3 separate regions of the Homo sapiens genome follow, and all the other regions are linked to region 1. The links come from fine-mapping of genetic effects on gene expression. A gene starts in region 1. Each other region holds a variant in brackets. All regions are shown on one strand. Distances are between the middles of the regions.

The links. PIP is the estimated chance that this variant, and not a neighbour inherited with it, causes the effect.
Region 2: its variant is the best candidate, but not a certain one, in a credible set for the expression of TEKT3 in lung (TOPMed, PIP 0.55).
Region 3: its variant is the best candidate, but not a certain one, in a credible set for the expression of TEKT3 in thyroid (GTEx, PIP 0.84).

Annotation. Positions count from the first base shown.
Region 1 is chr17:15,339,198-15,343,197 of GRCh38, reverse strand. It overlaps TEKT3 (tektin 3), which reads left to right and starts at 1,601. Exons shown (of 9, transcript NM_031898.3): 1 at 1,601-1,680; 2 at 3,137-3,170.
Region 2 is chr17:15,306,439-15,310,438 of GRCh38, reverse strand. TEKT3 (tektin 3) reads left to right here. Exons shown (of 9, transcript NM_031898.3): 8 at 1,621-1,775. LOC124903932 (a long non-coding RNA gene) reads right to left here. Exons shown (of 3, transcript XR_007065634.1): 2 at 2,579-2,778. Among named protein-coding and RNA genes, the nearest start is that of TEKT3, 33 kb to the left of the region's middle. The variant C/A (reference allele first, on the strand shown) is at 2,104.
Region 3 is chr17:15,532,780-15,537,131 of GRCh38, reverse strand. All of the region lies in intron 4 of TVP23C-CDRT4 (TVP23C-CDRT4 readthrough), which reads left to right. TVP23C (trans-golgi network vesicle protein 23 homolog C) reads left to right here. Exons shown (of 6, transcript NM_001135036.2): 6 at 1-152. Among named protein-coding and RNA genes, the nearest start is that of TVP23C, 29 kb to the left of the region's middle. RefSeq lists an enhancer at 620-1,119. The variant C/T (reference allele first, on the strand shown) is at 2,307.

The DNA of each region.
Region 1 (4,000 bases):
ACATTGAATGAATTTTGTCTTCAATTAGCAATGCTATTGGGCATCTAGATGTGTGCAAAGCACAAAGACTGCTCATCATCTTTAAAGAGTTTGTGGGCAATCAGATCTACTTTAGAACAGTTGCCAGTCTTTTGGCCCAAAGAACAAACATGGCATCATTTGCTGCATTGTCTACGGATTCTAGGCATCTGCAAAGCCCGTGCTGAATACTGAAAATACAAAATGCAGAACACTATGCATGAGAAAAAAGTAATAAAAAAAGACAGCTCAGAGTGAAATGTTTCTTAGGCCGAATGTAGAAAAAGTTGCTGATAAGGAACATAGTGGGAAAACTAGTCAGGATTTGCAGTGCCCTGGTGTCGGGTATGGGAGCCTTGTCTAGTCTTGTGTCTAGGCAAATGAGTAGCCTCTGAGCACTGGGTGTTTTCTGTGGTTTTCCTCTTTGGGGAAAATACTCTGGGCTCATCTCCACAGTTAGAGGGGTCGTGTTGCTTAATGTAAACACTTGAGGCAGCATTCTAACTTTTCTAGATTAGGTTCCCATGAGTTCGGTTGGCCTGAGTCAGCCTCTAATAAACTCGGGACACTGGCATAACCAAGAGTCTGAATTGGCAAAGCTGAGGACCAGCCCCCGACTTGAAGTCACTTCATTGAGGTCTCCTAGGGGCTGGGCAGCCTGCCTTATCCTGGCAAGTCCCTCCGCCTCGTCCTTGGGTGGAGTGCCACACAGTGATTCCCAGAAAAGCCAAAAATAATTAACTGAGGGCTTTATTTTCTTTAGCATTACTAGTTACCAAAGTAACTCGGTGAATTCTCTTGCTGCTCACACGGTTAGACTGCTGCCTCATGGAAAGATGCCTTGAAGTTTGACTGATTTGAGTTTTAGTGTTAGCTCTGCCACTGAGTCACATTGTCTAAGTCAATTAACTTCTCGAACTTCAGTTTCTTCATCTGTACAATATAAACCCCTCTTACAGGTTTGGAAAGAGGTTGCATGGATGAGCAATGATGTATGTATGTAAAAATGTGGGCCAGCACCTGGAAGAAACAGTACGGGCTGCTGTTTACGGAAATATTTGCTGAAGAGAGAGAGGGAAAGCCCAAACCATTTTCTTAGAGTGAGGAAGCAGGGAAGGAACACTAGATAATTCTGTCACAGGAGAAGCTCTGCTGGAGAGAAGAGAGGCTGGTCAGGAAAGGTGGGGGCTTGTCAACACCTAGGCAGGTGTTAGGGTTCCAGGCAGCCCTGATGTGCCTTAGAATCGGCCAAGTTCTTCGCAGCTGGAAGAGTTCCGAATCAGGCTTCACAGGAGAGGTCGGGAAATCACCGAGGCCTCTCCCTTGGGCTACTCTTCACCCCTTTCACCTCCCAAACCAAGGAGGTCTCCCGGAGGGCGGGGAGCCTCGGTTACTAAGCGTGAGCGCGTCCATAGTAACCGCCGCCCGACGGGTTTCCCTCCTGGCCTGACAGCTCCCGCCTCTCCTATAACTGGCCAGTCAGCTCCGGCGAGCCGGCCGGGGCGGCCGCTGAGTGGCCCTCAGGCGCTGCTATCGTCACAGATAGGAAAGGCGGGGCCAGGGCCAGACTGGTCTGGGCCCCAGTCGAGGGCTGCAGGTGGTAGGCTGCGACCCCTTCCTCCCACAGCCCCTTCCCGCCCCTCGCCGGGCATCCGCCGACAGGTGAGTGGTCTCGCTGACTCTAGCCTGCCTCTAGGACTACCCCAAAGGATCCCCCTTCGCCAACCAGGACTCCAACTTCTCGCCTCAGGATCGCGGGAGGTCGCGGACACCCTGCAATTCCTCCCCGCGATCTTCACTTTTCCTTCCAAATAAAAACCGTACAAATCCACAGGCACCTCCCACCCAGACGTTGGTTTCCTCGTAATTTACCTTTCTGATGCTTTTCAAGGGTTTTCAAGGGATGCCCAGGGAAGGGGCATCCGAACCCCCGACACTGTGCTAATTCGTTTAATTTCTTAATTCTAATAATTACCCGTTAGCAGCGCTGTGCCTTTCCACTGCGGTGCTGGCCGCCCCGCACGCTGTTCCTCGTCCCCCTCTGCTTCAATAGCCGAGCCTTCAGATCTGCAGCCACGGGGAGGAGAGTTCAATCACCTGGTCTTGTAGACCGAGCTCCTTAAATTCAGATCAAAGCTGTTCTCTCACCGCCCAAAGTCGTTTCTGTTTAGCTTGGCTGCAAAGCTTTCGCTTGTGTTTGGGCAGTTTAGACCAAACCCCTTTATGTTTTCTCCTGGATGTATATAGTATTGTAGAGAAATAAACATCCTGGAAATGGGTAAAATTATTTGTTTGATTATTGTGAAAAAAATATACAGTTTTACTAACAGGCGAAAATGTTTTGAGGTAACTGACAAAATATTCTACTTTTTTCTTCTTTAAAATAAAATACTTCACACAATAAGTAGAGTGAACCCAGGGGTGAATCCATGTACCCAGTCCAAACTTAAACCAACAAAAAATCGATTACAGGCACAATTAAGGTCTGTTATGTAACCCTTGGAAATCCCATTCCCCTCTCTCCTTACCTATCCCTATTAACCAACAGAATTTAGCATTTACTTATATTCTGCATATTTTTATACTTTTACTACTCATATGTTTATCCTAAACCAATGTATACTTTTTTTTTGAGACGGAGTCTCGCTCTTGTCGCCCAGGCTGGAGTGCAATGGCATGATCTCAGCTCACCGGAACCTCCGCCTCCCAGATTCAAGCGATTCTCCTGCCTCAGCCCCCTGAGTAGCTGGGATTACAGGTGCCTGCCACCACAACTGGCCAATTTTTTTTTTTTTTTTTTGTATTTTTAGTAGAGAGGGGGTTTCACCAAGTTGGCCAGGCTGGTCTCGAACTCCTGACCTCGTGATCCTCCCAAAGTGCTGGGATTACAGGCATGAGGACCGCGCCCGGCCTACTGTTACTTTTTAAGTTGATAGAATGGTTATGCTGTACGTGTTGCAGGTCATTCATTTGAACTGTTGTGTGGTGATTCTTGCATGAATTTACCACATATTATGTATGCATCCTCCTGTTGATGGACTTTTAGTTTGCTCCCTTTAAAAATACTAGAAAGGAATTCTTGTACATTCTAATTGTAAACATATTTGCATTTCTCTAGGTACATACCAAGAAATTGAATTGCTGAGTCACAGGTAATTTGCCATTTCAACTTTACTGGATACCACCATCTAGCTCTCCAAAGTGTAATAATTTATATACCATCGATGAATAGAGTTCCTTAACCAAACTTTTTTTTTTGAAGAGATGAAGTTTTCCTGTATTCTTATGTAATATATGCATAAAGAGAAATTAAACATTGATGTCTGATATGATTTCTTCTACTTCTGGTATTTGTTAGTGTATTGGCAGCGCTGTTTTATTTCCGCTCCTATTTAGAACTGTAATTAAGTGGCTACAAAGGAACTAAAGGGGTTTGTATGTGAGCCCTTCAAGCCTATGCTTGCCCCTGATCTAAGGCAGGGTGTGGGGCAAGTCATGTAAACTTGTGTCTTCTGCAGAAAATGGTCTGTAGATTTTTGTACTTTAAAATATTTATGATCTTCCAGTCTTGCTTAAATATGCTAATAAAATGTTTACCCAGTATGAAGCCAACTTTTGGATAGCAAATGGAGCTTTCCGGTTCTTAAAATCTCTGTGTGATTGATTCTATATTTAGTATGTTAATATTTATGGAAGACTATTGTAGCATTTTTTTCAGTATGTAAATAACAGTTGACTGTAAATTAAGTGCACCTAGTCAAACATTGTATTTGACTTTGTAGCCCATGTCTCATTTCTTAAAATTCTGTTTGGGCACATGTCTTAGTTTTCTGCTGCTATAACAGAATACCAGAGACTGGGTGATTTATAAAGGCGGAGATTTATTGGGCTCACAGTTCTGGAGGCTAGGAAGTCCAAGATCCAGGGGCTACATCTGATGGGGGTCTTCTTGCTACATCATAATATGGCAGAAGGACAAGTG
Region 2 (4,000 bases), 33 kb after region 1:
GACCTCATTTAACTTAATCACCCCCACAGAGACACTATCTCCAAATATGGTCACCTTCCAAGGCACTGGCGATTCGTACTTCAACATAGGAATTTTGGGGGAAGAGGCACTATTCAGCCCTAACAGGTACACTCAAGGTATTGTGCTAGGCACTCGGGGATGTACATACATCTCACGTCTTAGAGACAAGACATGCACACAGAAAACGGGAATTTGCATCAGAAAGGTGCAGAAAGAACTTGGAAACACAGATGAAATGTGAACACAGTTTACAAGAAGGAGCAGTTGTTTCCATTGGCAAGAGATCAAGATGGTTTCATGGAGCACATAGTATCTGAAGAAGGCCTTAGTGATAGAAACAGTGAAATGATTTTTAGCTTGGGAGAGAGGTCGAAGCTCAAGTGACAGATTGAAGAGTGCCTGGATGACACAAATGCTAAATCTGTGATTGCACGAGGTCTCTGTAGTGTAGAAAGGATATTGCAGAGACATCACCCAAGGACAAAGCCTTGCACTGGAAGGGAATGAGGAGTAGTTGGAAAGGAGGGAGTTGGAACAACACTTGGCAAGAGAAAACAAGATGAGGGTCTTAAGGAGAGGGAGGTGTCAGAGAGGCCTCGATGTCAGCTTTGAAACTGAAGTTTCATGACAGCAGCTAGGGCCAGAGACAGAATCCAGGGGCCACTGAGAGACTGGGTGGGTGGGAAGTGAAGGCAGTGGGCACAGCCATGGTTGAATACATTTGGCAGAGGACTCAGTTGGGACTGGATGGGAGAGTGGTGGTAAAAACATAGGGTTTCCAAAAAAAAGATGATTCTTGGTTGTGTCTCCAGGCCATGGAAGGGAACCCAGGAAGAGGGACAGTAATGGGGAGGATGTGGAGCTACAGGAGTGCAGAGATCAAGATGCGTGGAGAAGGGAGGCTTTTCAGAGCATAGGACAGGGACTCTCTTTACAGAGAAAGAGGAGGGAGAACCAAAGGGGGATCCATGTTTACGCAATTTGGGGTGGTGGCCTCTTTAAGAAAAAACGAATACAAAATCAGGAATACAAAACTGCCAGTACTCCTCTATTGCAAGTGAGGTACCTGAAACTGAAGCCTGATTCTCTGCAAGGGAAATCCTCTGTGAGCAGGAAAGCAATGCTCAAGTTGGTAGGAAGAGAAAGTGGGAAGAGATGCACAGATATATGGATGTGAGGAGGGAGATCAGGGCCACTCAAAGCCTCACTTTTATCAGAACACAGAGGTGTGCTGGTCAGTAATTAACAACGGCCATTGGGGGCAGCTTGCAGGGAGCCCCTAATTTGGAGCATTTGCCAATTTCTGTAGTTGAAATACTCCCACCCTGGCTGATTTCCAGCTACCAAAATGAGGTTGCCAAGCCTAGGGTTGGGGAGAGAGGCGCCGCCCACTCTCCAGAGCAGGTGCATGCCAGCTCCAGTGAGACACGTGGGTTCCCTGGGGCAGGGCTGGAAAGGATAGACGGTCTTGGTGAAGCAACTTCCTCATCAGCGAGGTCAAGGCACGTGCTGGACATGGAGTGGACAGGCAAGAGGTGGGAGGCGGGTTGTTGAAGGGACCACACCAAAGCCTCAGGCAGTTGCTTCTCTTTGTCACAGACCCTGCAGGAGATTTTCCAGACTGAAATGACCATAGAATCCATCAAGAAGGCCATCAAGGACAAGACTGCCTTCCTGAAGGTGGCTCAGACCAGACTGGATGAGCGCACAAGACGGCCGAACATTGAGTTGTGCCGAGACATGGCTCAGCTACGGTAAGGTGGGAGGGGAAGGCTCGGGGCTCGCTCGGAGGGCCACCAGACCAACTGTGGTGCCTGGCTCTTTAGAAAGCTGCTTTCTGCCCATACGCAGCATGTAGGAGCCTTCTGTGAGAATGGTAGTAATGGGGAGATGTTGAATGCAGAAGAGTTTCAGTGTGGGATGATGAAACAGTCCTGCAGATGGATGGCGGTGACGGTTGCACCAACAGTGTGAATGTACTTAATGCCACTGATCTGTACACTTAAGATTGGTTAAAGTTTTATGTTATGTATATTTTACCACAAATCCTTAAAAAAGGAAAGGACATCAACGCTACACACA[C/A]AAAAAGTGCTATTAAGCCTTTAACTCATTCGGGGAGGCCAGTGTGGTGTTCGGGTTCTTTTGCATGTTCTTGGAGTCTTCGGAGTTTCCAGAACTCCTGTCTTATAAGCAGCAGTTTGTGACTTTCTGTGTATTTCTCAGCATGGGGAACGCGACAGAAAAGGGACTTTCAGTACCAATTCCACTGACTCCTATCTACTCATTTGCTGTCTTTGTGACTGAGGATCTCATTTAAGTTTATTTCAATGTGTTTCATTCTCAGTAGAAATCAAAGCCAGCTGGTCTTCATCGAGCACAGCTCCTATATATACACAGCAGGAGGAATCTGACCCCACAGTTTATCTACTAAACACTACATGAATTTTATTATTATTTTCACTTTGAAGATTCATTTTGGGATGGACTTGTAATGAACTGGCCAAGATTCCCTCCCTACCCCCGCCACAATCCGGCTTCATTTCCAATTTCCCAATACCTGTGAGTCTGCCTTTTCTTTCTGGGTTTCATCATTGCTATTCTTAGGTCCTAAGATGCTCCATGCAGAAGTAAATCAACTTGATAGCAACTGGAGGAGCCAAGGGCAGTGCGTGAACTCCAGAAGCCTTTCTGGTGCAGTGGGGAGATGCCACTCGCTCTGCTTCCACGATAAAATTCTCTTATCTTGAAGGATTGATCCTAAGGATAAAATAAAGAAATAAGTGGTGGTTTGAGACAGTGGATTTCCTGAAATGGAAGGAAGGGGGATCTTGTGAGGCCAACATTGATGATGATGATAATAATAGTAAAGATAATGATGGCGATAATCAATGCAATGATAATAATAGCTGCTACCATCTCTTAACCTGACTCGATGCTGGGCACTGCCCTAAGCACTTTATACTATCTCATTCATTACCTTCATATTACAAGTGAGGAAACTGAGGCAGGAGTGGGTGAGTGGCTTGGCCCAGGCCACATTTAGTGGTGAGAGAGCTGCAGTTTGAGTCTTTGCCTGTCTCACCCCAGAGTTCTATTCCACCAAGCCATTTGCTTCTCTTTCTCCTGTGTTTTACGTTGTGTAATGCATTTACCATCCCCCTGTCAGGTACCTGATCTCATTTGAGAAGAGTTGGCAAAGTAAATGCTGCATGCTCATCTCCCTCTCACACAGAGGATGAAACTGAAGGTCACAGAGGAGATCATTATGATGAAACACCTTACGTGTATAGCACGCATGTTGTCTGTGTTGAGTGCCATGAAGCGTGCTTTAGGTTGTACGCAAATGATCTTCATTTCCAGGATGAGTTGTATTTCTCCTGGTGGAGCTGTTATCTAGGCCATAGCCACAGAAGAGATCACTCAGGCTGCATGTTTTTCAAAGTGGGTTCCATAGAACCCCTCTTCATGCACAGCTCATTATTTAGGATAAGCAGCTCTCCACTCCAGAGACTACATGGGCCCCTAGACAGCCAACTGGAGGCACCTCTCTGCTTTAGAAGAACCCAGCAGTGAGTGCACACCCACTTGGCCTATTAGAGTTAGATCACCAGTTTTGACTTTATGTAAATGTTATTAGGAGAAGCTGAACTGATGTTTCGTTCTCCAAAAATCTCTGCAGAGTCATCAAAAGTGGAGATGGGAACAAATAAATTGTTTATACTGCCGTTAGACAGACACAGGGTTGCTTTTAAAATGAGTTTTGGGTAGTGGTCTAATAGGACTTCGGAATTATCAAACAATGAGGCATTCACAGCTTCTCCTGAGGAGCTGAATGATTTTTACTCTTTTTTTTTTTTTTCCTATTCCTGGCTAAACAGAATTTGCTTTTCTTTCACTTCCTGCCGACTTCATGGTATGTCTATTTCCTCTGCTCCTTTACTGACTTTTGAACAAAACCTACTTTTGTTTCTGTCAAGTT
Region 3 (4,352 bases), 190 kb before region 1:
TCTTAATCAGCAGATTATGTTGTGAATATATTTGTACATTGTTAAAATAGTTTTTAAGATTATTTGTTTAATTGAATAAGTGTCTTATTGGAGTGATAGCTTTGAAGGTGCAAAACTTTATATTTGTATAAAATTCTACTATTTACAAGGCATTTGACATGTGTAATCTCATGTAACCCTCATGATAAATATGTAATACTTTAGATGATATAACTGAACTTCAGGTTAATGAGTGACTTTCCCAAGGAAAACAGATTGCAGGAATATCTGTAGGATATAAAACATGATATATTAGTATTTTTTAGAGAAAATATTTGCTCTAAATGCCCTTTCCTTTCTTAAAAATTAATAATTTGTTAAGAGCTTGTTTATTTTACTTAGCTGTTCTGTCTGGTGAGAATTGATACTGCACTAAAGACATTTTAAAATACAATCTGAAAGATCTAACCTAAATCTTTAGGGTTGAGAGTCTAACAAAGGATACATTGGTGTAGTTCTTTAGGTAACTGTGTTATTTGAACTGCATCCTAAACCAAGTAACAATGAATTTTAGAATATGCATGTGGTAGGAGCTACCCTGTATTCCCTAATATTCGTTTTTCTCCTTCTACAGATTTCCCACCTAATTAGCTAGGGAATGGCATCCTGGAATAAAGATAAAACTTTTCCTAGATTTTATTGCTGTATCTTGGTGTGGCCACACCACCAAGTTTGGGCCAATGGATACACTTCCAGGAAGTATCCTTAAAAGGAGGAGGCACGCCCATCCCTTCCCCCTTTTTCCTGAAAGGTAGACACAATAGCAGAAACTAGAGCAGCCATCTTGGACTATGTGATAAAGGCTTCGTTTTGTGAATGGCAGAGAAATGAGGTAGATACTGTCTGAATCCCATCTTGTGGGTATAGTAGCCCTGAACTACTTGTCTGAATTTTTTTTTTTGAAACAGAGTTTTTGCTCTTGTCACCCAGGCTGGAGTGCAGTGGTGTGATCTCGGATCATTGCAACCTCTGCCCTCTGGGTTCAAGTGATTCTCCTGCCTCAGCCTCCCTAGTAGCTGGGATTACCAGCCTGCCACTACACCTGGCTAATTTTTGTATTTTTAGTAGAGACGGGATTTCACCACAATGGCCAGGCTAGTCTCGAATTCCTGACCTTAGGTGATCCGCCCGCCTCAGCCTCCCAAAGTACTGAGATTACAGGCGTGAGCCATCGTATCTGGCGACCTGTTTGAACTTTTAATAAAAGTGAAGGGAGGAACTACCTTCTTCAAGTGTTAATGTTCTGGCTTCTCTGTTGCTCATAGCCTAACTGGATTCTTGTCGATACAGTGCACTTTGAGCATTATCCATGATTATTTCCATTTGAACTAACTTTCCATATTGTACTAACAACTCCAGTTGTTAGTACAGTATTAGAGATGTAATAATTTAGTAAATACATAGTTGTCCTTTATGTAGTAATTAAGTGAATATTGTAGTTGCTGCCGAGTTGCACTGTTCAGATGCTGTTGCTACGTAAAATTCCACTCCTAGAATTACTGGTGAAAAGTCATTTTATTATGCTCACAAATTGTGTGGGACAGGAATTTGGATGGAGCACAGTGATGGCTGGGGAAGGAGCCAGGGAGTGGCAGGGAGCTTTTCAGCTACTGGCCTGGAGGTTGACATTGGCTGTCAGCTGTGGCCTCAGCTAGGCTCTCGGTTGGAACACCTACACTGTGTAGTTTCTCCCTGTGGGCACATTTGACTTCTTCACAACCTGGCACTGGGTTCTAACAATGAGCCTTCCAAGAGAGCAAGAGAAGTGCATGGCATTTTAATGATTAGTCTTGGAATTCACATGATGTGTCTTCTGTCATACTTCATTGGATGAAGCAGTAACCAAGGTCCATCCAGCTTCTATAGAAGGGTACATAGAGCCCAGTACTTGATGAGAGGAGTGTTAAGATTACATTATAATAAGAAGTATGTGGGATGGGAGATAGTCTTTAGAAAATAAAATCTGTGACACTTTAATCATTTCATTAAGACTGAAGAAATTAGGAGAGACTGAGGATAAGTGGTTTTCCATTTTTTTTCCCTGGGTCAGCCTTGGATACAAGTGAATTGACTGAATGGTGCTAGTAAAATGGAAGTAAAATCACATTTTTGTTTTTTTATTTTGACATGGAGTTTCTCTCTTGTTGCCCAGGCTGGAGTGCAGTGCCATAATCTTGGCTCACTGCAACCTCCACCTCTCGGGTTCAAGTGATTCTCCTGCCTCAGTCTCCCAAGTAGCTGAGACTACAGGTGCCCACCACCACGCC[C/T]GGCTAATTTTGTATTTTTAGTAGATACAGGGTTTCTCTATGTTGGTCAGGCTAGTCTTGAACTCCCGACCTCAGGTGATCTGCCTGTCTTGGCCTCCCAAAGTGCTGGGATTACAGGTGTGAGCCACCACGCCTGGCCCTAGTAAAATCACATTCTAATTCTACATCCCCCAGAGTATGTATTCTTTGACCCAGACCTCTAAATAGGTAAGGGTGTGTGTGTGTGTGTGTGTGTGTGTGTGTGTGTAGAAGTGATGGCACATTAACTCCAACATATAGGTACTATGGGCCTTTTAAATCTATATAACTCTTAGAGCTTATTAAAGTTCCTTTATGTATTATCTCATGTGATTCTCCCCAAGAGGGAAGAATGACCATTATGTACCATGTAACCTCATGTTACAGGTAGGTAACTAATACTGAGAGAAGTAAAATAATTTATTGAAGGTTGCATGTAGTAGAGATAGTAATGCTCACTAAACGTTCCATTTGTTCTACATTTCTCAGCTTCCTTAATTAATTTGAGGCCATGTGGTTAACAATGGCCAATGAAATGTGAGTGAAAGTGAATAGAGATGCTAGGTGCCTGAAGAGCATAGGACAGTTTTAGACAACAAAGAATTGTCCTGTATCTCATGACTTCTTTGAACCTCGCTGAATAATTATGTACATAGAAATCCTGTTTATAATGAGAAAGGAAGAGCAACCCCTACAGCTGTCAGCTGGAAGCTGATTTAGCCCTAATGGCTAGGCTATTATATTCTGTTGAATATAAACAATGTTATATAACAACAACATCTGACAAGGCCACTCTGAGTGTGGTGGAGGAAGACAAAAATTAAGACACTCCATAGGCATGTTGGAACTTAGCAAGATTCTGTGTAAATCATAGAGCGACCAAACATTCTTGTCTCTTGGCTTACATGTGTGATATTTGCTCCATTACCCATTAGATCACTCTGTTCCTTCTTCCTCCTAGATTAAAAATTTCAATGTTTACACTCATTTAGAATTTCCCTTGCTTTCTGAAAGCACTTAATCCAGAGTAAAACCATGATTCATGGAGCCCTTCTTGAAATCACCCAACACAACCCCAAATCCTTTAAAAAGCCCTTCCCAGCACCCTCATACTGAGGCACCCCATGGTTCCCCATGGTGTGTGATCTCTCTTGTGTAAAAGTGTGTTGATAAACCCAACTCGATTCAACCGCAGATCTGTTCCTCATGATCTCTGACGGGTGGACGTTGACAATAATTTTTTGAGCTTAGATTATAACTCCATTTTATATTTTTGTTGTAGATCTGCAGTACTTGATTTGCTAAAAAATGCAATTACCAGTTAAGTGAGGGAAGGTTGTAGTCTTTGTTCAGTACGTAACCAAGAGTTTTCTATCATTTTAAAAACTATCACTAGTGGCAACATTGCTCATGGCATTTGAGTTCCAGGTCAAAACTACTGCAGTAGTCTGCATTTGTAGTGGGTACATTAATGGTAATTATATGTACATATGCAAGCATCTAATGATTGTGTCATCAGGAGTTTTGGCCATCTCCAGATTGAATTACACATTACCGTAAGTTGCTTCCTTTTATTTCTCTGTTACATTACAGTTAGATATTAAAGATACCTTTAATCATGATAGATGATTTAAAAATATGCCTCACGTAAGTTATATTGTTTGTGTTTTAGAATAATAAAACATGTTTAAAAATATTTCTGATAAAAAGTGGCTGTGGGCCTGAAGGGGCGAAAACCATTAGTCTACAGTCATTGATGAACAGTCTGTCCCTTAGGCCCTCTTAGTTGGAGCTGGAGAGTGTATAGATACGAACTTGAACTCTGGTGTTCTAATATTCTGTGTTGCTTACTGAAGGTAGATGCCATGTGCTTTGGAAACCAGCATGGACATTCTATGAAATTTGAGAAGAGAAGCAGTTTTCTCATTTAGATGGTCTATCATGGTTGGTAATGTCTAGTGTTCTAAGTGAATGTAGTAGATGCTGCTTATATTAATTTAAGAGAAATCCTATAGATGCTGCTTATAT